Regions from separate parts of the Homo sapiens genome. Here all the other regions are linked to region 1. The links come from fine-mapping of genetic effects on gene expression. A gene starts in region 1. Each other region holds a variant in brackets. All regions are shown on one strand. Distances are between the middles of the regions.

What was found. PIP is the estimated chance that this variant, and not a neighbour inherited with it, causes the effect.
Region 2: its variant is fine-mapped to the expression of EDEM3 in whole blood (INTERVAL, PIP above 0.99). The same link has a PIP of 0.9 or more in fibroblasts and lung.
Region 3: its variant is fine-mapped to the expression of EDEM3 in whole blood (INTERVAL, PIP 0.93).

The regions. Positions count from the first base shown.
Region 1 is chr1:184,749,207-184,759,425 of GRCh38, reverse strand. EDEM3 (ER degradation enhancing alpha-mannosidase like protein 3) reads left to right here and starts at 4,568. Exons shown (of 20, transcript NM_025191.4): 1 at 4,568-4,937; 2 at 9,834-9,879. The coding sequence starts at 4,780. LOC105371649 (a long non-coding RNA gene) reads right to left here and starts at 4,252. Exons shown (of 3, transcript XR_922357.4): 1 at 3,893-4,252; 2 at 1,327-1,402. RefSeq lists enhancers at 4,315-4,414, 4,885-4,984.
Region 2 is chr1:184,695,985-184,706,203 of GRCh38, reverse strand. It overlaps EDEM3 (ER degradation enhancing alpha-mannosidase like protein 3), which reads left to right. Exons shown (of 20, transcript NM_025191.4): 19 at 3,208-3,393. Among named protein-coding and RNA genes, the nearest start is that of EDEM3, 54 kb to the left of the region's middle. The variant C/T (reference allele first, on the strand shown) is at 3,240.
Region 3 is chr1:184,707,745-184,717,963 of GRCh38, reverse strand. It overlaps EDEM3 (ER degradation enhancing alpha-mannosidase like protein 3), which reads left to right. Exons shown (of 20, transcript NM_025191.4): 12 at 341-424; 13 at 952-1,076; 14 at 5,366-5,531; 15 at 6,087-6,241; 16 at 7,417-7,570; 17 at 9,620-9,811. Among named protein-coding and RNA genes, the nearest start is that of EDEM3, 42 kb to the left of the region's middle. The variant A/G (reference allele first, on the strand shown) is at 5,296.

The DNA.
Region 1 (10,219 bases):
TAATATTAAAATGGAGCCCCTCCCTGTGTTTTTGAATCCATATGGTTCTACCCAGGGCTCCTATCCCTCCCTAACTTCTGACACATCCAAGCAGGAAAGTGAGCATGCATATTTACATAAGCTACAAGGCTGTGCAAACAGATTGTTAACTGGTTAAAGGGCATTTTAGAAATGGCTGTTATTTCTTACCATTTTTAATGGGTTTTATACATAAAAAATCTTTATATCTTTAAAAGTTCTATCCTTATTCTTCTGATGTGCTTTCCACCAGTCTTTTTCCCTCTGTACAACACTAGACTCTCTCAATTAACTCGTACATCCTTTTTATCACTAAGTGTATAGGTTTTAAAATAACGTAAGTGAATTTTTCCTAGTGTTCATAAAGTGCCAATTAGCTGAGAATTTCCATTATTTTCATTACGGGGTTAAATACGTTTTGTTCTGTTTTGTTTTGTTTTTGTTTTTGTTTTTTTTTTGAGACAGGGTTTTGCTCTTGTCACCCAGACTAGAGTGCAATGACATGATCTTGGCTCACTGCAACCTCCGCCTCCTGGGTTCAAGCGATTCTCCTGCCTCAGCCTCCCAAGTAGCTGGGATTACAGAAGCCTGCCACCACACCCGGCTAATTTTTGTATTTTTAGTACAGACAGGGTTTCATGATGTTGGCCAGGCTAGTTTCGAACTCCTGACTTCAGGTGATCCGCCCACCTCGGCCTCCCAAAGTGCTGGGATTACAGGTGTGAGCCACTGCACCCAGCAAAAAAAAAAAGTGTTCTTTTTTGAAATGCATTTTGCGAATATATTTTTCTTTTATTTCCATGGGCTCCACCTTTGATAAGTTTTAGAGCTTTTAGGTCACACTAGATTTTCTACTTAAGGTTGCTGAGATCAGTGAAAAATAGACTCAATCATTGGCTAGAAATTGAGTTTCAACAAGGGAAAAAAAGATACTTATTATTTAGCAGTTCGAAAAAGAATTATGTTCTGGCTTCCCATTATAATCTTTAAATATGCAGCGTTAACTTGAAAACAAACAAATATGCTAGAAAATGTTAAACATTAAAAGCCAGTACTTCTTCTTTAGTATGTTCTTAATGATAGTTCATAGTCAATTTTGACTTCTTATAAAGGGTTGGAACATCAGGAAGGTAAAGAAAACTGTGTTATTGTTAATAATCCACTTCAAATTATTGACTTGACTATATTTCCATATAACTGAATGTCACTGTTTTTCTATTTTATTTGTTCTTAGTTTTCAAATACCATATGATTGGTGTTGACCTTTAGTTTGTAATGTTCTCTATGCAAGAGCCAAGACCAACTCACATGTATTGATTTAGCTAACTTCATTACCAAGGCTGCCAAAGAGGATCCAGGATGAAACCAATGTTGGATTGCAGATCTGTCCAAAGAAAGGATAATATTAAATATTGTACAGAAGTGACCTCATGTGTTTTCATAGCATCTATGTAAGTAGATAAAAGGACTATATTATTCCCACTTTTTAGATAAGGAAACTGAAGGAATACAAAAACAAGTATATTCAACATTTACTGAGCATCTACAGCAGGAGAGGCACAGTGCTAGGTGTTTCAGAATATCCTTATGCTATAATTTGAGTGTGTCCCTCAGAATATCTGTGTTGGAAATGTGGTCCCTGGTATGGTGATCTGGGGAGATGGGGCCTTTAAGAGGTGATTAAGAGGGATTAATGCTGCTCTCTCCGGTCTGGGTTACTTCTTGCTAGAGTGGGTTCTTATTCTCTCAGGACTGGATTAGTCACCGCCAGAATGGGTTGTTATGCAGAGAGGCTGCCCCTCGTGTTTCACCTCTTTCACACGTGCCTGCTTTTCCACCATGTCATGATGCAGCACGAGGCACTCGTCAGAAGCCAACCAGATGCCGGTGCCGGGTTTTTGGATTTCCCAGTCCAGAATCGTAAGAAATAAATTACTTTTCTTTATAAATTACCCACTTTCAGGTATTCCATTATAGCAACAGAGAACGGACTAAGACAACCTACAAATAAGCTAAAGTCAATACTTTTCATGTGGTTAAAATGTAGTGGGTATGCAGACTATGAAAAACACAATAACAAAGACACAGAATACCATGGAGGCACAGAGAGAGGATAACTTCTGCTAACTAGAAGGTTCTGGAAGGGTTTTGTGGAAATGGAATCTGAGCCCAGCCTTAACAGGTGTTGAGTGTTGTACAAAGATGATGGGGTAGCATAGGAGATGGTGTGAGCAAAGGCATGGAAAGGATACAGAATAGGAATTATTTAGTTATCACATAGGATTTGAGGGCAGGGCAGACTAGAAGGAAGAAAGAAGGTATTCAGAGGGTTTGCAGATGTTCTTGAATACCAATTCTGACAGCCATGTATAGAGGAGAGTAGGGCAGCAGGGAGATAATCGGTAACTTCAACATTAATGCTGCCAAAGAGGACTAGGATGGAACCAATGTAGGATTGGAGATCCATGCAAAAAAATAAAGGATATTAAATATTGTACAGAAATGACTTCATGTGTTTTCACAGCATCCACGTTAGTAGATAAAAGCAAGGATCCCCAAGCCTGGGGCAGTGGACTGGTACCAGTCAGTTGCCTCTCAGGAGCAGCAGGCGAGCAAGCATTACCACCTGAGCTCCACCTCCTGTCAGATCAACTGCGTCAGAGTCTCATAGGAGCATGAACCCTATTGTGCACTGCACATGCGAGGGATCTAGGTTGCACGCTCCTTATGAGAATCTAATACCTGAAGATCTGAGATGGAACGGTGTCTCCCCCACCCTGTGGAAAAATTGCCTTCCACAAAAGTGGTCCCTGGTGCCAAAAAAGTTGGGGACTACTGGATAAAAGGACCATATTATTCCCACTTTATAGATAAGAAAACTGCAGGAATAAGGAAGCAAGTATATTTAACATTTATTGAGACACTGCAATAGTTTAGGAGAGAGGTAATGGAAGCTTGAATGGAGCAAAAGTGGGAATAGAAAGAAAGGTAATAATCTGAAAGATAGAAGAGGTAAAATCTATATAATTTGGTAATTAATTGCACGTGGACCCCGAAGGCTAAAGATGAGTTGACAATGATTCCGATGCATTAATTTGAATCAGAAAACATCTTACGTTTGAGCTACCCTTGGGCTAGACATTAGGACATTTCTATTAGGGAGGTGGAAATGTGGGTCTAATGATCAGGACAGATATTGATTTAGAAATCAACCACAGAGATATGTTGGCTGAATCCTTATGAGAAGAAATCACCAAGGAATAATTAGAGTACAGAGAGAAAAAGGACAAAAAGAAAACCTTAAGGGAACACCTGTATTTTAATATAAAGTAGCGAGAGAATGAAGGAAAACGGGTCAGCCAGAGAAGAGGTAAGAGGTTAAGAGGTAAGAGGTAAGGTGATAAAAGTCAAGGAAGAAACGTTTCCAGAAAGACCGCCGAATACTGCTTAAAGGACACGTAAGTAATTTACTGTGGTCACAGAGATCACATCGAAGCTCCTAAACTCCGCACCTATTGAATGACCACACTAGAAAAACAATGTGGTTTTTCAAGAGGAACCGATGTGTCATTTTACCAATAGTTAACCTGGGACTCGGTCATCAAAATTCATTGCAAGTTCCAATCTCCTTCATTAAACCTTCTTTGCAGCCCACACAGCTCTCCTTACATTGAGCTTTTGAGGTAACTATTATTAATCATGTACGAGGACCCACGTGCTCCTTCATCCTTGTAGTACTGCGCGGTGGTTAAATGCAAGGGCTTCCGAATCAGAGGCTGGATGGATTCTAATACAGCAGTGTGACGAGCTCTTGTTAACCAACTTTTCTAAGCCTCTGTTTTCTCGTCTGCAAAAGGGGGATGGTGGTACTTACTCTATCAGAGTTGAGAAGAGTGCATGAGATGATTGCGAGTAAAAACCTTAGCGCAATGCCTTCAAAGGCTCAATTCATTTTGCTGTTACTGTGTTTTGGAATTTCCCTGAGGGTAGACGACTACTCCAACACTATTCCCTAACGCAGCAGCACTGACATGGGGACAGTGCGCCTCATTCAGCCAGCTCTCTGGGAAACAACTTTCTGAGGAAGAGAGATAAACAGCTGACGGGTTTCCCGGGACTCCGCAGCCCACCGAGACAGGGTTGACTGTAGGGCGCCGAGGAAAGGGGGAGGTGGGATCCCAGCAACCACTGGCGACCTCGGAGGACCGCAAGTCCCAGGGTGCAGCGCGCCTACCCCGGGTAGAAGCGAGAGACACGGCTCCGAGTCGGCTCGCGGGAGAGCCGGGGAAGAAGCAGTGCACACTGGGACTGGTAGTCCTCAGGGGGCAACTCCGCGGGTCGGAGGCGGGTCGAAGCGAGAGATCCCTTCCCAGTCCCGCCTTTTGTCCACGTCTCACTTCTCCTGGCCAATGCCCTCTCCAGTCGCCGGAGACAGCCCCTCTCCCATGAGGTCTCCATTGGTCCTGAGGCTCTACGGCTTCGGCCCTACCCGGAAGTAACGTTGGGGAGGCGGTTTCCTAGACTACGACACCGGAAAGCTGGGGGAGGCGCTCCGGGATACTGAGGGCGGAGGGCGGTGGCAGCGCTGGCGCTGGGGACCGGCTTGGTGGCTTCGGGAAACAGTTTGGCGCCGGCGGCCGTCCGTGTTACTCCGCATCCCGCCCCGTCTCGGCACGGCTAGCAGCCCCCTGGCCACCAGCGTCCAGCAATGTGTCTCACCGGCCGGGCGTAGCAGCTGCGCGTGCGCGGAACCGCGGGGCCATGAGCGAAGCCGGCGGCCGGGGCTGTGGGTCCCCGGTTCCCCAGCGAGCGCGATGGAGACTAGTGGCGGCGACGGCCGCGTTCTGCCTGGTGTCGGCCACCTCCGTGTGGACGGCGGGGGCCGAGCCCATGAGTAGGGAGGAGAAACAGAAGCTTGGGTAAGGGTGCTGGCAGCCTGGGGTGGGTTTCTCGGTGAGGCTGACAACAGGAGGGGTGCCTGTCATTGCGACCCGGTCGCGTAGTGGCCTCTCCTGTCGCGATTGGAACGGCTCTTCCCGCGCGAGAACCCTAGAGGGGTGGACAGGGTCCGGGGAGGTGGGAACCGCCGCCCGCGACCTGACCTCGGGGGAGCTGACGGGGTGTCGCCCTGGCCGCCGGTGACATGTGCAGGCTCCTTGAAGCCAGGCGCGGTGTGTCAACGCGGCTGCCATGTCAGTGGCCCAAGAAGGGGGCTACAGCCCGCATCGCTGCGCGCTGGAGTTCTGCGGTTGGCTGCCTGTCGACCGAAGCATGGTTAGCTTTCTCGCGCAAGTGAGCTTCCAACTGGGAAAATGTTGCTGATCTCACAGTAGTTAAGGAAATGATGTTTACACCTGTTACGGAAAAGGGGGCGTTCATTGGAACTTGAACTTTACACATTTTACTATTTCCTTGCAGTGTTTTCTTGCACTGTATTTTCATAATAGAATGTTTGGGGGGAAATTATTCAAAAGTCTCAAGTATACCTATTCAGTAGTTTTTATCCGTCTTGGAAGTGTGTTAAAATTATCAATTCTATTTACACCATTTAATTCAGAGTAATACATACACGAGGTCCTACACATGAATAAGAAAAAAGCGAAGAACCAGTAGGAAATGGGAGAAAGGCATGAACGGTTAAGCCAGAAGAGGAAATGGAAGTGGTAAATAAACATGAAAAGTTACTCAACCTCCATAAACGTAGGAGATGCAGATTAAAACGAGGAGCTAGCTGGTTTTTGCCCATCAGATTAGTAAATATAATACAAAACACAAGGATACGGTTCTGGTTAGTTAAGGAATAGAAAAAAAAGGCTTAGTGAGAGTGTAAATTGCTGTAACTTATTGGTAGTATCTACTAAAATTTAAATTGTGCACACTTTGATTCATCAGTTCTATTTCTGAGAATCTACCCTAAGAAAATAAAAGCACTCTTAATGCAGAGATAGATCCAGCCTGGGCAACAAGAGCGAAACTCTGTCTCGAAAAAAAAAAAAAAAAGTGCATTTTGAAAGAACAGCTCTTCCTTGGAGGAAATGGTTCAATAGGGTACGTTCATATTATGGAATAATATTGAGACATTAAGAAGAAGGAAGTACGTCACTGGAAGCCTATCCAGAATATATTTCCAAAACAAAAAAAAATGCAAGTTGTAGAATAATATGTATAGTATCATCCCATGTTTTTTTTAAAAAAGAAAAAAAAAATCTGAGCTCAGAAAAAAAGTGGAACGAAGATTATCTCATGGGGTTAGGCTGGAGGGGTGGTGGAACCATCAGGTCTTACTTTATGTACTTTAAATCATTGCAAAGAGTCTTGTATTCGTTTCTAAATAGCAATAAAGGTCACTTGATGGAAAAAAGCTGAAGTATCAACCATCAAAATAAAATTACCGGTAAACTCTAATAAATATCTTACATTTTCTCTCATATGAATTTAATGTATCATTGATAAGTTTTACCAAATATCTCACTCTGTGAATACTTTACATATGTTATCTCTGTACTCCTTCCTATTTCCCAATGAATATGATCCACATTTGCAAATGAGGAAGTTGAGACCCAAGGTTGACTTGTTCAGCCACAAAGCTAGTAATTGGTAGAGCCAGCATTCAAACCCAAGCCTGTCTGATCCCAGAGCCAGGCTCTCTCCAGTATGTTGCACGTTCATTAGACTTGGAAGAGAAGTATCAAGTCTGTTAAGAACCACAAGAATCTTATTTGACTATCACTACCCTTTCTTCATTTTTTATTAAAAACTTATTTGTAAAAGAGTCATTGGATAAATCATTTTTGACCAAAATTAGTTTTTAACTGGAAAAGTTCAACCAAATTGGCTTGAAATTTCAGCTCAAATTTTGAGATCATTTATGAAAGTGAAATTACAATTATTTAGGCTTGTTAGATTGCTCTACCCTTGAGTAAGGGTAGGGTAAGAATCTAGAGCTATAAACGACAAATACACAATTATATGACTGCTTTCTCTGGGAATTTTCAGAAAACTGAACTTTGATTCATTAGGTTTACCTGTGCATTTTTTAAAGCCCAAATAATGATTCATGATAAAAAGCAGAAAATGCCCCACCCCTTTCCCTCCCCACCAACAAACCAAATAGTTGATAAAGACTGGAATTGTCATGAATAGTAAGCAATTGCTCAATAACTTACACTTTGTGGAATTACTTAGCTGGTTATATGTAGTCTTATCCTTCATGGAATAAGCTTTTTGGTTTTGTTTTTAAAATTTTGCAACAGGGTATTTTGTTAATGTTATGTTTTCATTAAAAAATGAAGTAGAAAACAATCCAGTTTCTATAGCACGTGGGCAGGAGACGTAACTTTAGAAAAAGCCGACTTGGCCTGGCATGGTGGCTCATGCCTGTAATCCCAGCACTTTGGGAGGCTGAGGCGGGCGAATCACCTGAGGTCGGGAGTTCGAGACCAGCCTGACCAACATGGAGAAACCCCTTCTCTACTAAAAACACAAAATTAGCCAGGTGTGGTGGCGCATGCCCTTAATCCCAGCTACTCGGGAGGCTGAGGCAGGAAGAATCGCTTGAACCTGGAGGCGAAGGTTGCAGCGAGCAGAGATCGTGCCATTGCACTCCAGCCCGGGCAACAAGAGCAAAACTCTGTCTCAAAAAAAGAGAAAAAGCCGACTTACAGAAATTACTGAAGAGTGGTGTAATTTTTGAACTGGGTCTGATTTCCAATACATTTTAATCCAGTTTTTGAATAGATAAAACATTATGGAAATTTTTTTTTCTGTTCAGTATAGTAATTATTATACCATTCTGTATTTAAATGTGACTTTGTTAGGCTTCTATGTGTAAGAGCAATGATATTAAATAGCTCCACTTTGAAATATGTGTTCTAAAATTTGCTCATCATATGCTGCATAAATGTAAGGATTGGAAAATAGTGTATTCTCCTTGTATGCAATCATGATTTACTTACAGTCTTGAAAATTGAATGCTTGTAAAGTTGAGTTAGCAAGTTAAAGCTTATGTCATTTGTAATATACATGTCTAGGCACTACCATTGCCAATTATAGGAATTTCTACTTCTTGGTAATAATCTCGTATTCCATTTCAGGGAAGGAAAAAAAAGAGGACTTCCATCTTCCATTCATTGATATGAGTTCCTGAAAGGGACATTTTAAACTTTTTTTTTTCTGCTTAGGACAGGATAAGAGTCTAGAGCTGTAAACCACAAATATAAAAATTATATATATATAAACATATATATATATGTAAACTTACAAAGAATTAGTGCTTTAGCAAAGTGGTGGTAAGGTCTTTTTTTAAATAATGAAATGTTTTTAAGTGGTTATTATTCATATGTTGTCAGGACTTAATTCGTTCACAAGTTTGAGTGTACTTGATTTTGTTGGTGTTCATAGTCAGGATCTGGAACTGAGGTCTTTTCTGTTTGCTAGCTCTATTATTACCAGTATTTCATAATCTGTGATTATAGTTTTAAAAATGACAATTGCAGTATAACAGGAGGCAAATAAAAATATAGTCAGCAATTTCTTTAACACTTTTTTCAATTCTTGCCATCAGTGATTGGAACTTTGGTAAAAGAAAAGTTAATAGGCCGGGCGTGGTAACTCACACCTGTAATCCCAGCACTTTGGGAGGCTGAGGCGGGTGGATCACATGAGGTCAGGAGTTCGAGACCAGCCTGGCCAACGTGGTAAAACCCTGTCTCTACTGAAAATGCAAAAATTAGCCAGGCATGGTGGCAGACGCCTGTAATCCCAGCTACTCGGGAGGCTGAGGCAGGAGAATCGCTTGAACCTGGGAGGTGAAGGTTGCAGTGAGCTGAGATCGTGCCACTGCACTCTAGCCTAGGTGTGACAGAGTGAGACCCTGTCTCAAAAAAAAAAGAAAAAGTTAATAAAAAATTGTTAAGCTGTGTTTTCCTTTGCTAATTATTTGGCCTTGTCTGGTCATACAATTAACTTGTACTTTTTCCTGTAGTCCTCAAGTCCCTGAACTTGAGAGTGCTTAATTGAAAGGCTGCTTCCTCAGTCGCAACCTTACAGGTTTTGATTTAGTAAAATTCTGGTGTAGTGATCAGACATCTCCATTTTAAACAGTGGTTACGGAGATTTTGTGAAACAGAATTCGCCAAAACACACAACTCTCTTTTTGAGCATTAGTTTTCTCATTTTGGAAGTGAATACTATTTATTTGATTTTTGACAGTTTTTTTAGAGTAGAGCACATCATAAAAAGTATCTTTTGAAAATATGACAAACATTAATAAATATGTACTTAAACTAGGCATTAGTGGTTTATTCAATGTAAGTGCAAAGGCAGAGGCTTCATAAAGCGTTGTTATTTCATGTCACTACACACCTGTGTACCTCTCTCTTAGTAGAACATATAGGGGAAGCAATAAATGGCAATAATAATGGTTTTTTTAAAGGGCTGTCCAGCAAAACCCCCGCTTCAAGACAGATACGTTAAATAATTGTGTTAAGAGGTCATTGTTTTTCTGCATCAGATTTCCTTCTCTGATGATGGCATCTATCATTCATCAGTTTTCTTAGGAAAAATTATAAGATGAATTGTACATAAATTACTAGTAATCATTAAAGTTTGGCTCAGCTCTGTGTGGTGAGTTCATGAAAGCTTGTCTGCTAGCTGTTGTAGTTTCTGATTCTGTTTATGTCCCTTTCTACCTAAATTTTTCTTTTGTTTTTATTGGTATATTTTTTATGAGGAAGAATTAACTTTTTGAAAGATAATAAATAGAATATACTTACCTTTTTTTTTTTTTTTTTCCATTTCTGCTCTTTTAAAATTAGGAATCAAGTACTGGAAATGTTTGATCATGCTTATGGTAACTATATGGTAAGTAGGAAGCTTATCTTTACCTACCATTTATGTGAGTTGATTATTATGTGAGCACAGTCAACTGGGAATTTTGAAACCTACAATACAATTACATTTTTTAAAAGGAAGTTTTTAAAAAACAGGGCAAAAATAGTCTTTCTGGTAGTGGTTTTTAGGGAACCAGTTTATTGAACAGATAAGAATAAATTGAAATTAGATTATGAAACTTCATTATTTAAACAGCTTCCTTGGGTGCCATCAACAATTATCATTGAGTGCTTTATATAGCTAGATATTGTGGATATATACATGAAGATGTTATCTCTGGTCTTAAGGGAGATTATTCTCTTAATTTAAA
Region 2 (10,219 bases), 53 kb after region 1:
GCAGTGTAACCTTGGCCTAGCTTCAGTTTTTTAATCTGTAGATTAAATAGTATAATTTTTTTTTATTTGATAGTAGAATATTTTTGAGCTCCAGTGGAAGTGATAATAAATATATTTTAGGTGATTGTAAGGTTTAAAGATATATAAAATTTCTTGGCATAATAGCAGACATAGGATAAGTGCTACTATAACAGGGTTTACAGTATTGCTAGCAGATCTTTATCCCCTTGGATCTTTTTCTACCGAAATGACAAGTTACCACCTTTAAATCATCTTACCTATATGTATCAACTAGTGGGTTTTGCTTTTTTATCTTTCATAGACAATCACTTATATCATGATAAACAGGCCATGACTATTAGGGGAAATATAAATTTTTCTGTTTTAAAGTAAATAGGAGTTTACATTCAGAAAGAACTGTAAGACCTGGGCTCACAATATGCTGATTGTGAGTTCTTTTGTACAGCTTCTCTCACAGGGAAATCCATTTTGGATTCCCCCCTCCCCTGCCGCCCAATAGTTAAGGTAAATAAAAAAAAATAGTTCAGGTAAAACAGAATATTAACACTTATTATGTTGATTTAATGGATGCATAAATTTTATTAATAAACATTAGGAGAAGTCCTGTTTAATGACTTAAATCAGCAGTTGGCAAACTACAAGACTATAGGCCAAATCCAGCTCATTGCCCATTTTTGTAAATAAAAGTTTTATTGGGACACAGTCATGCCAATTTGTTTGTGTATGGTCTATGACTGCTTTGAACTGCAGTGATGGAGTTGAGTACTTACAGGAGAGAACTACAAAGCCTGAAATATTTATTCATCATCTAGCCAGTTACAGAAGAGATTTGCCGACCCCTGACTTAAATCATGCTCTTTATCCTTGGGTATTTCCCACACTTAGATTAGTTTTATTGCAGAATTTATTATATTAACCATCACTATCATTTTGAACAGTTCTTACCAAGACTTCAAAATGAAAATGTAAAGTATAAAGTGTAGAATTTATGCATTAATGTTTAAAAATATTTCTTTGTGTAGTATTTTGGTTTTTTATATTTTTCAGTGAAGTCTAATTCTCATGATCTTCTATAGTATGCAATAATTGTCAATTTTTGTTTTGTTTGTTTTGAGATGGTGTCTTGCTCTGTCACCCAGGTTGGAATGCAGTGGCGTGATCTTGGCTCACTGCAACCTCCATCTCTCAGGTTCAAGCAATTCTCCCTGCCTCAGTCTCCCGAGTAGCTGGGATTACAGGTGCCTGCCACCACGCCTGGCTAATTTTTATATATATTTTTTTCTTTTTAGTAGAGATGGGGTTTCTCCATGTTGGCCAGGCTGGTCTTGAACGCCTGACCTCAGGTGTTCTGCCTGCCTTGGCCTCCCACAGTGCTGGGATTACAGTCATGAGCCACCAAGCCTGGCCCGTCAAATGTTTTTTTTGGTAGCTATTAGTTGGAAAATGGTATACTGGGTTCTGTGGATAAATAAATAAGAGATGATGATCCTTACTCTCAGAAATTTTTTTTTTTTTTTTTTTTTTTTTTTTTTTGAGACAGAGTCTTGCTTTGTCACCCAGGCTAGAGTGCAGTGGCATGATCTTGGCTCACTACAACCTCCACCTCTAGGTTTAAGTAGGTCTTATGCCTCAGCCTCCTGAGTAGCTGGGATTACAGGCACGTGCCACCAAGCCTGGCTAATTTTTGTATTTTTAGTAGAGAAGGGGTTTCGCTGTGTTGGCCAAGTTGGTCTCAAACTCATGGCCTCAAGTGGTCTGCCTTGGCCTCCAAAAGTGCTGGGATTACAGCCATGAGCCACCGCACCCAGCCAAAAATTTAATTTTTAATGAGAAACTTTCTTGTGTTGACTTCTTTCTCCTGAGTTTTTTGTTTCTGACAAAGCATTTTGTTTTTGTTTTAATTGTATATAAATGAATAAATTAGGAATTAGCTGTTTTTTGTTGCAAGGGTTAGAAATACGAATTATCTTAGAAATCATGTGGCTGCAGGAGATAATTACGTTGGTTTAAGAAGGGAGGTTTTTTCACTACACAGAAATGGATTATTTTTAGTGAATTAAACAGTACAAATACAACTAGGATTCACCAGGAGGTAGAAGTGGGAACTAAAAATCACCAGGATCCATGATAGTGAATGTTTTTCACTTTTCTCTCTGTATCTCTACCTCTGGGTCCTTCTGAACTTTTCTTCCCTGCTTCTCTTTGCAATTCTGCTTCATTTTCCAGCTTCTCACCAGCCTTCTCTCTCTTTGTTCCTCAGTTCCAAAATGGCCATTCTAGTTTGCAGCCTCAGCCCCTAAGTCTGTGTCATTCAACTGGACTATTACCCCCTGCTAACTGAAACAGTCTTTCTGTGTGCCAGTTCCAGGTCCCCCAGAGAGACTCAGGGTCAGGTAGCCATCTTTTGTCTAATCAATTATTACCAAGAGGATGGGTCATGCATTCTGCACTTAGCAGGTCCTATGAGAGTGAGCACCCTGAGACAGGACAGATAGTTTCTTCTGGGAGACTGGCATGCGATTTGGAGGTGGTCGTGATTGTCGTCTTCAGTAAAACAGCATGTTGCTGGTACTACTACTATTAATAGTTCTACTACTATTATTTAACCAATGCAAAATAGCAATACTGTTTAGTTTAGCTTATAGAGGAAGAAGCACTATAGTCATAACTATTCTTTGTGTGCATTATATAAAAAAGAAATGTCCATTTTTAGTTTGGTAAAACAATGTAATCATGCCAGTAGTGGAAATTTTCAACAATAAAATTCATTCATAGTTCTATCACTGTAATCCGAGTCATTGATTTTTTCCTTTCTAGGCTTTTCCATAAGCATATGAAATTTTTATAGTCATAATCATAGAATTCTGTATTCTACTTTTTAAATGTATTATTATTCTGTGTGTCCTATCAAGTAGGTCATTATAATTTACTTATAATGGTGTACAGTTGTTTACAATTATAAATAGTCTAGTAAAATTATTTGGGCATAGGGCTTTTCGCTACTTTTGAATTATTTCCTTTGGATACGTTTCTATGAGAATTAATGGGTCCAAAAATTATGTTGGTTTTTATGGTTCTTGATGCATAAAATTAATTCTGTCATTGTAAAAAATCAGTAACAATTAGTAGATAGATCTTTTTAATGGCTGGATATTTTGATGTTTGCTGTATTTATTTTCTGGCTAGATGACAATGAGGGGAGCAGCAGTGATACTGCC[C/T]CTCTGTTCCAGATGGCAGGTGATGGAAAGGATACAGATGACATCAAGATCCCCATGCTGTTCTTATTCAGCAAAGAAGGAAGTATCATACTGGATGCCATCCGGGAATATGAGGAGGTAGAAGTGCTCCTCTCTGATAAAGCAAAAGATCGAGGTAAGAGTAAAATACCATTTGTTTTTTTATGCAGCGTAATATTAATTTTGCTAGTTTGATAACAAGAATGAGTCACAAAAAATTGTTTTGGGGGGTTCACTGTGAAAACAAGTAAAACTTTTAGAAGATGATTTCAAAATATATTTTTCTTTTGGAAATAAGAATAATAAAACATTTATTTTGCTTTGTTTTCTGAGTTAGGATGTTTTTAGACATATGTTTTTATGTGTGATTTGTAATTTTTGCCCTGAGTCTGTTCAGGTGATAAAAATACAAGAGACTGCTTCAGGAAAGCCATTTTAACATCCGGAAATGTTCACAATTTGATTTCACTGATACTACATCTTACATGTCTTTTATAAGGAATGAGAAGACATATATAGAATGTTGTATACAATATCATAGTAGTTAGTCTCAACAGGCCACCTATAATCAAATGACTGCTGTCTTGGTGAAGGCAATAGAAATCTAGCAGCTTCTTCCCAATGAGATCTAAGTTTATCACATGGATATAAGAGTTACAAATGGCTGTTTCTGAAAAACAAGATAGCATGTCTTAATTTATGAGAGTAGATAGTCCTCTGTAGGCCAAAATGTTTGTTAGTAATTTGAAATGTCTTTGAAACCCAAATTACAATATAAATGCAAGGCCTTACTAGTATTCTTACATAGTTTCACACCCAGGGATAGAGGAGAAATGAGGGAATGTGAGCCTTCAGATCTTGCTTGTGGTAGCAGTCTTTCCTGTCTGCTGGAGAGACCTGAAGAGAGAGCTAAAGTTCTCCCATACCCTTAAATAGATGAAGTTGCATAATAGTACAGGGTTGTTACATCCCCTGGGGTGTTTGACAGATATGTAGGAAACTGATTCAATTCAATGTGACTTCCAAGTGGGACATTTAAAAAAAAATGTTCGGTGATAATCATGCTAGCATAATCATGCTAGCCTAATTTTGTCTTCTTGTATTGCTTTATTCTTCTTTGAGATTCTTTGAAATGTCAATTATTTATGAGCAATGGAGTGAGCAAGTAGGTTGTTTGTATATAACAATGTATAGATGGAAACAGAACAGAATACAAAGGTTTTCTAGTCTTAAATCCTCTGTATACCTGATTTTTTTTTCCTGGGCCCTTTTCTAAACTCAGATCTTCTTGCCTACATATATGCATTTAGGCACATCTAACATAGGCAAATTATTATTTCTTGTAACTCTTTAATGCATTTGCTTTTTTTCCCCCTATTTTGTGCTACCACTGGAATTTCAGCAGCAATATTAAAAGGTAAAATGATTCCAAGCTACATTATTAATAGTAGTAAGTATCTTGCATTAACAAGCCTTAAATTATATACGTATATATGTATTTGGGTGTGTGTACACACACTCAAGTACATATATAATTTTGTTTCAGTGGATACCATGATAATATCTTGTGTAACGTAATTAGATTATTTTCATGTCTAGTCAGCAGTCACATAATAATTTTAAATTCTAATAATTATACATCCCATACAATAGATGAATTCTATGTCTATGTCCATACAAGAGTCACTCTAACAAAGGCATTGTTGTTTTAGTATTTATTACTTTGATCACATTTTATTTGAACACAATGTAAAATATTTAAAGTATTGACTTGTTTTAAAAGCTCATGTGTGTGTATGGTACATGGGTTAGGACTACAGGATTATGGTACAGCATGTGCTTCCTGTACCAGAGAAAGGTTATGAGACATGATTAATTCTACCAGAAAATAAGAATTCTTGGTGAACAGTATCCCCTTAAGGACCTTGCATTAAAAGGGCATTATTTAAAAGATATTTTTTGAAAACTTTAGTCTATAAATTTATTGAACTGTGATTGTTATAGAGTGATCTTTTGATAAAAGTATTGAAAAGCCCCCTTTTTGTGTAATAGCTCTTTATAGAACTGTACAGCTATATTAATTAGCAACAAGATACAGTCTAATTGTTAATATTTATTAATGTAACAGAAATCAATGGTAATAGTGTTATGAAATCAACAAATGTATTCACTTAGGATATCCTAAGAAGCTACACAGTCTGTAGCGGTTATCATTTGTCCTATACCATTACTACATACATCAGTGTTTCTCCCCTGCATCAGAATCAACAGATACACTTGTTAGAAGTGTTGGCTTCTGAGTCCTGCTCCAAATATTCAATCAGACTTTCTGATTCAGACTTTATGATTGGGAATCAGAATCTGAAACTTCAAACAAACATCCCGGGTGATTGTGTTGTAGCTGCTTCCTCAGCTACACTTTGAGAAATATTGAACAAGATTCAGAAAGCACCCCTTTTTTGTCTCCCAGCTATGTATCAGGCCATATTGTACCATTACAGGTACTAGTTAACAGATTATATAAGTACACTAAGTAACAACATCCTTAAAATCTGAACAATAAAATGTTCTCCAGATTGCCTTTTCTAGAAATGTCATTCCACAAATACGTATTTTTCCATATGAAGTCACACAATGCTGATTAAGAAGTCCTTTTCATATTTAATACAGAAAATAGAAGCCCTTAAAAAGCCTTCACTCCTGTCTTCTTCTTCTGATAAGTCCATGCCATTAGTATAGATGTATCTGAAACTGTTCTGCTAGCAGAAATTTTCTGGTCATCTTAATACACATTTAGAAGCCAAAAAGCATTAGCATTTTATCAAGTGATGTTGCTTCCTTAGGTCAAACCTGTGACACTTCTGAAAGTTAAGCTATCCACAGTCTATTGTTGAACAGAATTTTCAATATCATATCTCTCAGTGTTTCATTTTTCCAAAATTTCAGTTTGTAAAGGTACTTAATTATTCCAACCGTGTGCCCACAAACAAAAGGCAATGTTTTGTTACCTTTAGGTCCAAATTGAAGCAGTTTACAATTAAGAGTAAATTTCCTTTTTTCAATAGTATTTGTCACAGGGAAAAAAACATCAGCATTTTTAAGTTCCAATTCATTGTCATGCTTGCAGCTTAGAGTGTAAGCCTATAGTGCCTTAAGGGCTCTAGACAAATGCTTTCAAGCAACTGTATTTGTCTCTATCTGGTAAAGAGCCAGACAGAGAAAATGGAGGAAAGAAAAAAAAAGGTTCCATCATTTGCAATGCTCTGATTTAAGTCAGGCAGGGTCACTTTTCCTGATTATCCCCCACTGAATTTGATTGGTGTGAATCTGTTCTACAGCTGAACTGCACACCTTAAGTTGCTGTTGGAAAGGATTTGATTCCTAGGAGAAAAATCTAGTACATATGCAGATGAACTCTACCTGGAGAGAAACATCTGAAACATTCTTCTTAGCAGAATTGATACTTAACCTTCCCTTCTCCATCCAAGACATGTTTTCTCATGCATTTTCACATTTGCGCCATCTCTTCCCTTTTTCTGGAAGTTCCCTATCAATCCCTTTTCCTCTCCCATGGCCCTTTTCCTCTTTGAGAACATTTAGATATCCTAAATTTCAAATGCCACCTCCTAGGTAAAATTTAAGGGTGTCCTTTTAATACAGTTCTACTATGATAGTTAAATAGTTCTTTACCTGCTTCTCATCTCTATATTCCTTGCTTTCAGTAAACATTTAATGTACAGATGAATGAATGAATGAATGAATGAATGGTTCTAAAACATCCAATCTCTAAGTCTTTGCCAAGGTTCACTTCCTCTTTTATTATTAAAACATACTGATTTTGTTTCTCTGTATTTTGAGATTTTCTCCATTCTTTCTGTGTTTCTGATGTACCATTCCTGAATTTAATATTGTGGTTGTTATGCTCTTACGACTTTGATCTCACATACTGGTGAAAACAGGCACCTTAGGATCAAGATTTGTAGCAATGTGGCAGACTTTAACTCTTCTATCTTTTTGTAGTTCTCTAACTGCCATTTTTACTTTCCTGATTGTTGCTTTTATTTCTGGTTCTATAGCTCCTTCAGCTTGCGAAAACCAAAATATTTTCTTCCATGGGCATCTTCTTCAAAGTTCTTCTCTCTGTCTCTCTCTCTCTGTCTCTGTCTCTCTCTCTGCTTCTCTACATTTAAATTTAGTTGGCCCCTGGTGACTTTCCTATAGTGCTGCATAGAATAGTTATTGGTATCTTTTTAAAAACTTTATAAAATTAAACTTGTAACAAATTAAACAATCCAGAAGTGTATTAAAAACTTTTAAATAATCTCTCATCTTTCTGAGATAACCAACCAATGTTAGCAGTTTGATGTGTAATCTTTTATATTCTTCTTAGTGCTTTATACATTTCTAAATATATGTATCATTCAGTAACTTGCCTTTTACAGTTAAAGCTATATTAAAGACATTCCTCCAAGTTAGTAGGATAGCATAACTTATTCTTTTGAAAGCTGCATTATGTTTTGCATTATCACTGTACCATAATTTATTTAACCATGTCACTATTAGGCGTCCAAATTATTTCCAGGTTTTTGTTTTGCCACTGTATACAATGGTGTAGGTAACATTCTCGTACATATCTTCTTAGATATGCATACTTTTTCTAGAATATTGAGATTTACTAAAATGAAATGCTGGCAGAAAGTATATGGGTCGTTTTCATTTTAATGGATGTTGCAAGTTGCATTCCAAAAAAGGTTGTAGCAATTCACATCCTTTCCAGCAAGATATGAGAGTACATGTTTCTTCCTATTTTAGTCAGCATATTTCCCTTTATAGGTATATTTTTTGTTTTTTCTCTTTATGGATTGCCTAGTCATATGTTTTGCATTTTGCCTTCTTTAAATAAGATTCTGTGTCTTTTCTAGATATTTTATAGGACCTCTCTGTTTGTGTGTGTGCGCATTTCCTATATTTACATACATACTCATAAAGAAATAGAGGTTCTATAAATTATCTAGAAAAGACACACATATAGGGACAGAGGTTACACACACACACACACAATTTTCCCAACATGTCATCTTTTCACTTTGTTTATGTAACTTTCATAACATTTTTAGGTAATCAGAAATATTAATTCCTTTGAGGCTCCTGGGTCTTCTGTCTCACTTCAGAAGATCACTCCATCCTGTTTTTACATAATATTTTCCTAAATTCTTCTGGCATTTTTACCATTTTTTACATTTTGGTCTCTAAATCATATGGAATTTTAAAATAAAAGTTAGGAGTCTTTCCAATTGAGTTGTCAGTTACTAAATACCATTTATGAAGCAAACCACTCATTTCTCCTTCAGTTAAACTACCATCTTTGCTATATATCAAATATTCTTGCATAGTTGGATCTGCTTCTAGACTTACCCTTCTCTTCTACTAATGTGTTTATTCCTTTGCCAATAATAAAAGTTTGCTGTTTTGAGTATATTTTATTATCTGATAGGGCAACTCTCCCCTCACTGATTCTTAGAATTTCTTGGCTTCTCTTTGACATATGCTGTTCCATAGAAACTTTAAATTAATTGTATCTGGTTCTAAAACGAAAACAAGAAGTACAAATGAGATTCATTTTGAAATTATATAATTGCATACTTTACATATAAATTAGGAAAATGTTAAATATTAAGACTTCATTTAAGAATATACCTATAAATTTAATCAAATCTTGTTTTATGTTCTCATTATGATTTTATTTAAGCAACGTGGGTCTTATACCTTTTATAATAAATTTAATTCTATGTTTTGTAGCTTTTTATTATGAAAAGGTTTAATGATTATATTTTAACTATTTATTGTTACTACAAAGGAGTTATTGGTATTTGCATAGTCTTCTTACCAAATTTTTTTTATCAATTCTAATAGTATTTTTTTATTAAAGTTGCTTTGACAGTGTACGATCACAATCTGAAAATACAAATAATTTGATCTTTTTCTATATTTACATTGATTATTCTACTTTCTTGTCCGATTACATCAGCTAGATTTCCAAAATAATATCGTATATGTAACCCTAGGAGAGTTTTTTATCACAAGCACAATCTTCATTACCAGGTAAAACAACCCTACACCTTTTCCTCTCCTTCTAATCTGGAATAATACAATCTAGAAAGAAACTTGGAGATTTTTCTTTTTGTTCTCTCTTGAATTTAGGGAACCTAGGATAAATAAGCTGTAAGTAGCCAGCTACCTTCTTTCTTTGGTCTGCACCATTGGTTTCCCTAATTGCCTAATTAAATTGTACCTTTTTCACAGCTTAGAAGACAGAGATTGTGTGGAATTCCTCAATCCACCCCCTGCTGATCCTCCCCTCCGGAAAAAAAACCCTAAGAATGTAAACTTTCAGAGTCAAGTAATCCCATCTAATCAGGGTGAACATATATGCATTGTAGGGGCAGAAAGGGGTGATCCTTTCCTCCCCATCATAAAGGGTTACAGCGGACACCCCGGGTTAAAAAAAAACAAAAACAGGTTAACAACAGAAAAGCATAATAATTTTATTATGTGTACGTGTGTGCACAGGAGCCATACAAAATATGAAAGGGGACAGGTGGTTGAAGCTTAAATACCCTCTTCTTAGGGTAGAGGAATACTAGGGAATGAAGAGGTCCAGTGCTTAGACAATGATTGGTAAAGGATTCTCTTTGCATAGTATCTAGATAAAGTCCCCCAGTTAATCTCTCAGCTGTCCTCAGAAGAACAGAAGAAAAGTCTGTTTGGGTGTGGTGAGGACCCCTGTCTCTACTCTTCTCTGATGGCTCATTTTTTTTCTCGTTATTTGATGAGAGTCCTAGGGAGGGATTCTTGAGACAATTGCATTTCATTTGGAAAGAAGCTTCCTTAGATAAGAAAATTCCAGAGAGAATCCCCCCAGTTGCTTCAGGAAAGAGGATCAGAGAGACAGGGAGGCAGGG
Region 3 (10,219 bases), 41 kb after region 1:
TAATCCAGAGGAAAAAGTAGAGGGAAGGATAAAAAGAAAACACAATTATGTTTACCACCAGGACCCATGTAGTGGCATTGCTGAGTTTCATTATGGAGTTTTTCTGAGTTTTCTAATAGCCAGAATGATCACTGAAAAAATAATCAATTTAATTGGTAAAAATAGCAGCCTTTGCAAAATGAATTGTTATTTTAAGCAATGAAAATTGATGTTTTATTGATGAAAATGTCCTGATTGCTATTTTAATTGCTTTTACCTATTTATATATATTCTATATATTCTGGAACTACTTGTGTATTTAATCACATTTTTTATGCCTTTTGTATGTTGTTTTGTTCAGGCATTTACCACAGATTTCAGAGTACACTGGGCTCAACATCCTTTAAGGCCAGAATTTGCAGAAAGTACCTACTTCTTATATAAAGTAAGAAAATATACCCCATTTTACTTAAAGTTTAGCCTCCATTCTCTGTTGGATCTCTCATTCTTTCATAATAGTAATTGGGTTTTCAGAGTCCCCTTTTAATATTATAATGATTGGATATATCATGATTCTTATTCATCTAGTCCATAGAATTATTGAATGATGCAAGAATTGACATGCAAGGTTTTTTTCTTTAAAAAATATTATGTAAACATTTCTTTAAAGAGAAATTTTATGTTCTAGAGCTGCTTTCTAAAGCATGTCTCTTGCCTTTCTTCAGGCAGCCTTTCTGAGCATTAGAAATTTAAAAACTAAGGTTATATAGTTAAATTTTATAATTGTGTATTTAAGAAATTCTGTAAAGCAGATTCATAGCTTTTTTTCAGAACTCAGTTCTATATAATGTCCTTCAGTGCCTGATACAGTGCCTGGCACCTAGTAGGTACTCAATAAATATTTGGTAAATGAATGGATATGTGGTAATATATAAGCTATATATATTATACATATATTCTCCTTTTTAATAGGCTACAGGAGATCCTTACTACCTTGAAGTAGGGAAGACACTTATTGAAAATTTAAATAAATATGCTAGAGTGCCTTGCGGATTTGCTGCCATGAAGGATGTTCGTACTGGAAGTCATGAGGACAGGTAAAACAATTGCTAACATCCTCTTTCCTCAGGGTCTCTCTGAAACAACACAAAATGCAGCTACCATTTAGGATTCAAATAAGTTTAATTCTTTTACAAAGGATAGAAACCTTTGTTCCTTGTGTTTACTTTTTTAAACTCTGTTGAATACACTAATTTTAATTTGTTTGAAAAGTTTGTATTTTTATCATAGTGCCTGGCATATAGTAGGTGCTCAAATGATTTTTAAATAAATGAATCGATGATTGTTAAATATCAGAACCTTGGTGTTAGGACTATCTAAAATGTGGCTTTTTTTCTTCTTTGATAATAGTTTCCTTTTATATTACATAAGACATTAGAAATTACCAAGATGAGGAATGATCTGGAATGTGATTTGTGTTCGGCCAAGAATTCCTCAAAAGCTGTGTGTACTTACACCGTTGCTGACTTGCAGGAGTGGGAAAGACCAGTGGTAGTTTCTGTTTCATTAGACACTGGATAGATGTAGATGGTATGAAGTATTCAAGCTATAAAAAGTGCTCCACATGAAATTCACAAGCATTCTCCTTATTCTAAGATCACTTATCTGGTTATCACATCTCTAAATGAATGCTGAAGCTTATTTGTTCATTTGGTTAGCAAATGTTCATTCCAGAAATATTTACTGAGGCCCCTTATGTGCCAGGGCTCTTACTAGTTTTTGAGGATTAAAGATATGAAGATAAGTCCTTTCTGTCTTTGAATCACTGAAGGCAGGCCAATAAGCAGACTTTTAAAACATTGTATATGTGTTTGAAACATATTAAAGGGGCATGAAGCACAAGTTGGGATGTGATAGTCAGCGAAGGGTTCCTGAAGGCTCCTATGTCCTGAAGGATAACCAAGAATTAGAAGAAGAAAGATGTAAAAGAAGTTCCAGGCAGTGAGACTGAAGACATGAGAAACACAGCACTCATCATCTACCCATAGAGTTGTCCCTTAGTTCTTCACTTAGTGTTCGGATAATGGTTAATTAGGCTTCGAATCTCCATCCCTAACCACAGCTAATGAGAAATGGTTAGGTTCTGGAAGCAGGCATACAAGTAATAGCAAGAAATAAAAGCAGATACCTTGTGTATTTATTTGCCTGTAACATTTATTGACTGTTTCCTATACTCCAGACAGTCTTCTAAGCATTTTATGTGTTTAACTAATTTGATCCTTACAACAGCTTTCTGAAGTGTACTATTACAGTCTTCATTTTAAAGGTGAAGAAACCAAGGGAAAGAGAAGTTAGGGAACTTGCCTAAGGTCACACAGTTAGTAAGATTAAGTCAGAATTCTAATCTAGGCAGATTGGCTCTTGACAATGATGTTATACTGGCAATTCATTAAAGAACAATAATTAAACACCTACTGTATGCCAGCCACTGCACTTAAGTGTGGGGTAGAAAGATAAAATAGAACCAGTCCCTGCACTCCCATGACTTGTAGTTAGTGAATAAGATAGGTGTGTAAAGAAATAATCACAACCATGTGATATGTTCTAAAATACAAAAGAGGTAACAAGTTGAAGAATTGCAGAGGAAGACATGATTTACTGTTCAGAATTCTATTTTTCAAAGTGTAACATCCTTCTTTTTTTCCCCACCAAATACTCCTTTTATGACATTGTTTCTGGACCTCTTACCACTGACATTGCCCCATTCTGATTGCATTCCAGTATATATAATAACTCTTAAAATATCACATCCAGAATTAACCATACTCAAGATGTGTCTGGCACACAGCACCATAACTGTCTGTATTCAGGCAAAGGGTCACTAATGTTCTATGAGGCTGATGAGTTTCCACCCTCTATCCAGTTGAGGACCACTGCTTCATTGACTCACTGTTCCTGAGGGGATTGTTGTGCCTCTCAGATGTCTTTAGCCAAATGAAAGGTTAAGAACTACCATTCTTCATCATATTGTGTTATTAGATGTGCTTTAGATTTTTTAGGAGCTTTATTATGTTCAGCTCACAGTGAGCTTGTGATCAACTAGTTTCACATACTTAACTGTATGGTCTGCTGACAAATGAGTGTTCTCCACCCTGCCTTTGAGCAGCCAAGTTTTCTTTTTTTTAGTGTAAACTTAGAACTTTTATATTTAACTCAGCAAAATTTCTTTTTTTGTTTTGTTTCTAGATTTTGGTCTAGAGGTTGAATCTCATTAGCTAAACTACCAGTTTTCAATGATCTATAGTTTAGATGAGCATACCTTACATTTTTTTCATCCAAACTGTTAGGAAGAAGTTTTGGTTGGACCCCAACCAGTGCCTTGTGGCACTGCACTCAAGAGCTTTCAGTTACAGGCTCTTTGCATGTGGTGGTTTATTACCCTATAGATCTAAGCACTATCACTGTCCTCCAGGTTACCATCATCTACACAGACACAGACATACACACACACTTTTCACAATGGAAATATCTGTATTTTCCTAATCATAATTACTGAAAAGAATGTAAATGGCAAAAATAATAGGAAAATATTTGCTAAGACACTGTCCCCTAACTGCGTAAGATTACCACTGTTAGCAATTTTATAAAGGCTTCCAGACATTTTTAATGCCTGTGTATTTTTATTTATGTATTTTTATGATTTTAAAATATAAAATAGATCATATGATCTGATGTTCAACTTGCTAGCTTTGCCCAATTCATATTGTAGTTATCTTACCATGCCTTGTTCTTTTCTAAATGTTTACAAATTGTCTATTCTAGTATTTGCCAATTATCAGTATCCTGCTCATCTGTCTGCAGTTCTCAAGATAGCATTTGCTCATGTAATAACTGTCAGTCCATCAGAAAAGGTTGAATTATGATAAGTGTATTGCAGATAAACAGGAAAGTGTTTTTATATTGTCTAAAAAGATTAATATCCAAAATGGCTAAACATGTTTTGAAACATTTCAGGTGAGTTTTTGTTCCAAAATAAAAAATCATGTGTATGTAGGAAAAATGATAGCTGTAGTTTCAATCTCATATGTATGCCAAGTGCTATGCTAAATAATTGACATTTAATATCTCAGTCTTCACACCAATGTCATGAGTGTATTGTTATATTCCTTTTACAGAAGAATAAACTGAAGCTCATAGTCCTTATATAATATCCCCATGGTGACAGAACTAATTAGTGGAAGATCTTTCTATTTCCAAAGCCCATGTTCTTTACTTCTTTGTTCTACTCCCTCTCCAGCTCATTCTTTAATCACGCTGTTTAAACTTGCATTTAATTTAGTAAACATTTATTGAGTGCCTACTGTGTGCCAGGAATTGTGCTTGGCCAGAGGTATGAAATTGTGCAACTTGTCCAGTAAACTAGAAGTTGTTTATTACTGCCAAAACCTATGATGCTTTGGGGAGTAGTGAATTAAATTTGATGTTACTATGACTCCATCTACCAGCTATGCTTTTTTCCTGACACTTTTAATTTAAACTTTTCTTAAATTGTTAAAACATTATAACATTAAATCATTTGTAAAAACACATATAGTTTTACTGTCTTTATTTCTCCACATTCCCTTCTTAACAGGTAAATAAATATTTAGCATGTTATAATCATAGCCCGTGTGACTTTGCATTGTACTTTTTTCATGTAACTATTTTTTTCTTTTTTTGAGTCGGAGTCTTGCTCTGTCACCCAGGCTGGAGTGCAGTGACACTGCACTCGGCTCACTGCAATCTCCATCTCCTGGGTTCAAGTGATTCTCCTGCTGCAGCCTCCTGAGTAGCTGGTATTACAGGTGCCTGGCACGACACCCGGCTAATTTTTGTATTTTTAGTAGAGACGGGGTTTCACCATGTTGGCCAGGAAATTACATGCAAGTAATTTCTTTACATTTAAAGCCTTCTTTTTAAATCACTTAAATAGCTACATAATAAATTCCGTCAAATTTGTATGACTTTTTCCAGCTCTCTAATTTAATGGAAGATTCTTATATGATTCTCACTAGTAAAATTTATCAGTTACCTCCCTGCTGTTGATTCTCTATAGAAGAAATGGAGAACTTTCCCTCATTGAAAGGCCTATAGAAAAATCTTGTCTGCATTATTCACAAGATTCAGTGTATCAGTGTGGTAGACAACTCCTCTGGTCTTTTTCATTAACATAGAATATACTTGGAGTCAAGGTTATTCTGCCCCTGGTAGATTGATACATTCTATAGTTCTTTGAACATCTAAGTTGGTATAGACAGGATTATTAACCTTGACTCT[A/G]TGGCTTTCATATAGTTGGCATTTAAATTATTTTTATCTACTTATATTTATTTGTGACTTTTTATTTTAGAATGGATTCTTTCTTCTTGGCTGAAATGTTTAAATATCTTTACCTGTTATTTGCTGATAAAGAAGACATTATTTTTGACATAGAAGATTACATCTTTACAACAGAAGCTCATCTGTTACCTCTTTGGCTCTCTACTACAAATCAAAGCATCTCTAAAAAGAACACAGTGAGTTTTTAAATGAAATGTCTTATTCTCTTTTTTATTTCTACATGTTTTATTTTTCCAAGTGAAAAGTAATCCATGAGTAGAATTCAATAAATATATGTATGGTAAGAATAAATATATACATTTTCCTATTTTTTTTCTTTTATTGCATCCTGTATACACTTATATATTTCATTAACTGTTTCCTTTTAAAAATTATGTTGAGTAGGCCAGGTGCGGTGGCTCATGCCTGTAGTCCCAGCACTCTGGGAGGCCCAGGTAGGTGGATCACAAGGTCAGGAGATTGAGACCATCCTGGCTAACATGGTGAAACCCCGTCTCTACTAAATATACAAAAAATTAGCTGGGCGTGGTAGTGGGCGCCTGTAGTCCCAGCTACTCGGAAGGCTGAGGCAGGAGAATGGCATGAACCCAGGAGATGGAGCTTACAGTGAGCAGAGATTACGCCACTGCACTGCAGCCTGGGCAACAGAGTGAGACTCCATTTCAAAAAAAAAAAAATTATGTTAAGTAAAATAATTATTTCTGTTTACATAAAATGTTTTTCTCTTGTAGACCTCGGAATATACAGAACTGGATGACAGTAACTTCGATTGGACTTGTCCAAATACTCAGATCCTCTTTCCTAATGACCCATTGTATGCTCAAAGTATTCGTGAGCCCTTGAAAAATGTGGTGGATAAGAGCTGTCCTAGAGGCATCATCAGAGTGTAAGATGTATTATTTTATATTTTCTAATATCAAAGTTGTTTCTTAGTAAATGACAGAGAACTTAGGGAGCATGTATCAACAGCCAAGAAGACATTCACATAGGCCGAAAATGTTGAGGTATGTAGCTATCACTGGTTAAAATAAAAATTAGTAGTAAAGTTAGATAGTAAAGCTTATTTTGCAGTAATATCTTTTTTATTATTTTGGAAACTTTCAATATATCTTTTATTTTATGAACTAAGGTAATAATAGTGGGCAGCATGTAACAGTTTTTAACTTCTATAACTCATTTTTCATGGAATAGTTTCATCGAATATTTTCTGGCCAGGCATGATAGCTCACGCCTGTAATCTGAGGACACTGGGAGGCCAAGGCAGGTGGATCACCTGAGGTCAGGAGTTCGAGACCAGCCTGGCCAATATAGTGAAACTCTGTCTGTACTAAAAATACAAAAAATTAGCCAGGCATGGTGGCAGGCACCTGTAATCCCAGCTACTCGGGAAGCTGAGGCAGTAGAATCGCTTGAACCCAGGAGGTGGAGGTTGCGGTGAGCCAAGATCACGCCATTGCACTCCAGTCTGGGTGACAAGAGCGAAACTCCATCTCAAAAAAAAAAAATTTCCTTTTGTCTATAGTTTCTGTGTAGTGAAAATACAGGTATTTTGTTTGTTTGTTTGGATTTGATTTTTTGAGGGAGTACTTATTCTTGCTTGTTAAAATTGGCTTAATGAGTTCATTTTCTGACGAGTAGTTATATTAGGCCATTGCAAGGACTTTTTAAAAATTATTTTTACATAAGTGTTATTATTCACTGATGCAAGTATTGATTTGCTTTTAAAATATTGGGAGAAAAATCTGTGTTTTTAAAGGATAACATCAATAGTAACAAATCCCCAAGCAAACTTGTTCTGTACCTTTAAATAGTTATAGTTCTCTTGACTAATACTGCCTTATATAGATAATATACAAACTTTTATAACTAGAAAATGTTATATTTGAAAGCTATACCACTTGTTAACCTAAATTATATGTAAGAAAATACTTTCTAGTTATTCCAGTTTCACTAGTTCTAAAACTAGCAATTTTGCAAGTAACATTATTTTTATTTGACATGTGTTTTTTGCCAATTCTAATTTATAGTTTTTTAAGCCTTGCCTGTAATTACTTTTAGCAGAGAGGAGAGTTTCAGGAGTGGAGCTAAACCCCCTCTGAGAGCCAGAGATTTCATGGCCACTAACCCTGAGCATTTAGAAATCCTGAAGAAGATGGGGGTGAGTTTGATTCACCTCAAAGATGGGAGAGTCCAGTTGGTCCAACATGCAATCCAAGTAAGACATTGCTACACTAATTAGATACCGTCTCTGCCCTGCTTTCTTTGGTCGCATTAGCTTTAATAAGATAATGGATTTCAACTTTCTAAACACTTTAAATATACTGTTTAAAGTGAGAGAATGAGAATTTTAGGACTTGGAAGTATCTTGGAAAGTCACCTAATTCAACTCCTTTATAGTATAAATCAATTAAATAAATCAGAGCTAGGTTGGGTAATTTGCTGAAGTTAATATAATCAAATGCAGGACTCAAATCTAAGTTTTCTGTTTCTCAGTCCATTGGCTTTCCCCTGTTACTTTTATTTACAACATAACTTCAAAAACTAGTAATTAGTTTTAATATTCATATCTCCATGTTTTACATCATTTTAGTCTCCAAAGAGCTACTGAATCTTAAGTATTTTGTTCATCATAGGTATTTATTTGTCTGTGCCTAGGAAAAATAACATGTCTTTTTGAGAAATTTTTATTGATTTTTACTTTGAAAGTTTTTATAACACAAAGTTTTTAAATTATTTACCTTATTAGTATATTGATTCTGAGAAAACCACATAGTTTGCTGAATAATTTTTAACCTAGAACCATATTCAGGTATCCTTTAATCTCAAATTCAACCCTCCCACAACTTCATCACACCCTCAAGTTTTCATCTCATCCATATTCTTGCCACATCCTTCCTTCTTTTAAGAGTATTCTTCCTTCTTCCTTGTATTTTATTTGGCCTCAGTGGGAGTGACATCTCTTGTGACATTGCTTTTACTTACTTAGGCTGCCAATGGCATAATTACTGCCAAGTGGCCTCTTGATCCTTATATGATTTAACTTTTCTGTAACTATTGGCTGAACCCTTCATAAAACATTTTCCCTTTTTGGCTTCCCAGGATATTTCAGAAACAAAGTTCTTTTTCTACTTCACTGTTTATTGCTTTGTAGCTCTCCTTGGCACAACCACTCAATGTAAACAGTTTCCAAGAATCTGGATGATATTCTTTTCTCTATATACTCTTCTTCAACAGTGTCACCTATTTCTACAAGCTTAGCTATCATTTTTATACATATGACTTCTTAGCTATGTATGTGAATCCTGATTCCTAAATTTACTATTAAATTCAACTTTCATCTACCTCTCATACATCTTGCATCTCAATCTCAATCTGTCCAAACTTGAATTATCTCTTTCTTGTTTACTCTCTTTCTACCCTCACCTCAACCTATGTTTCCTTCTTTGGCTCTCCATGTCAGTAAAACCTATCATCATTCTTTAAGTCATCAAAGCTGGAAATTTCAGGATAGGTTTGAACTCTTCTTCTCTTCCAGTTCCTCTTATCCTTTTCCATCCTCTAACTTCTATCATGTCTTGTTGGTTTTTCCTGTAAAGTATCAGGAATCATCTTATTTTTTTCTATTATAGTCATTCTTCAACTTTCCCTCTGTTAAGACTCAATTCAAGTGTCATTCTAAATCTTTCCCAGGTACACACAAGCAGAATCAATTGTTCCCTCATCTGTGCTCCTTTTCCACTTTCCCACTTGAGAAATTTTATCATAGCTAACTTTACATGTCTTTCTCCTCCAGACACAAATTTCTTAAAGGACTGTCTCTCCAATGCCTAGGCAAGTGCTGAGATGGAATAAGTGCTTCACAGATATGTTTTGAATCAAATTGAATCTGGTTGTTCACTATTTCAAGGAGGGAAAGTGTGGGTCAGGTATGAGGTTTATTTCTTCAGAGGGAAAGCCAGTGGGGAGAATAAGCAAAGTGAGCATTTGAGCATTCGCTAGAAGTCCAGTTCTCAATCTGAATCAAAAGTGGTTTATAGAATAGCGAAAGTGACATTGATAAAAAATACGGATAAGTTATTTTCAGAAATACTATTTCTGAAAGTATTATTTTTGAGTACAAATAAGGTCATAAATACTTGGTGGTGACCTAAAGTGAAAGAAGAAGTTGTAGAGTAGAATACTACAGTACAGTGTCTTTAGGAAATCAAAAAATTGGTGGAAGTTTCCAGAAAGGAAGGATAAAATGAATTTGTTTTTTTCATAGGCTGCTAGTTCAATCGACGCTGAAGATGGGTTGAGGTTCATGCAGGAGATGATTGAATTGTCAAGTCAGCAACAAAAAGAACAGCAGCTGCCTCCACGAGCTGTACAAATTGTTTCCCACCCATTTTTTGGCAGGGTAGTATTGACTGCTGGACCAGCTCAGTTTGGGCTGGATCTGTCTAAACATAAAGAGGTATGTATACTTAAAATATAGTTGTTGAAACTGAATTTAAAATATTAAGTATTGCCTTATTTCTTAGTCTCTTCTCTAATTTAGTAGTTTTAATTTATTTAAAAAACTGAAATAGTCAATCTCCTGGATTTAAGTAAAGTAAAAGCATGTCTTGAAAACTTTGAGTCATAATTTATGTATATAATATGCTTACAGAATTTTAACTAAAATATTATTCAGGTTCTATTCAATTTCTTGGTCTCTTCTCTAATTTAATACCTGTAATTGATCTAAAAATGGTTTTCAGACTTTCTAAGAGCCACTAGAACCTTTCTTTGAACAAAAGTCTAAACCAGGAGCTTAATGTAGAAAACAGCTAAAAGCACAGAAGCTCTGGCTCAAGTGACTGGAGAAAGCCTGGGACCCTGA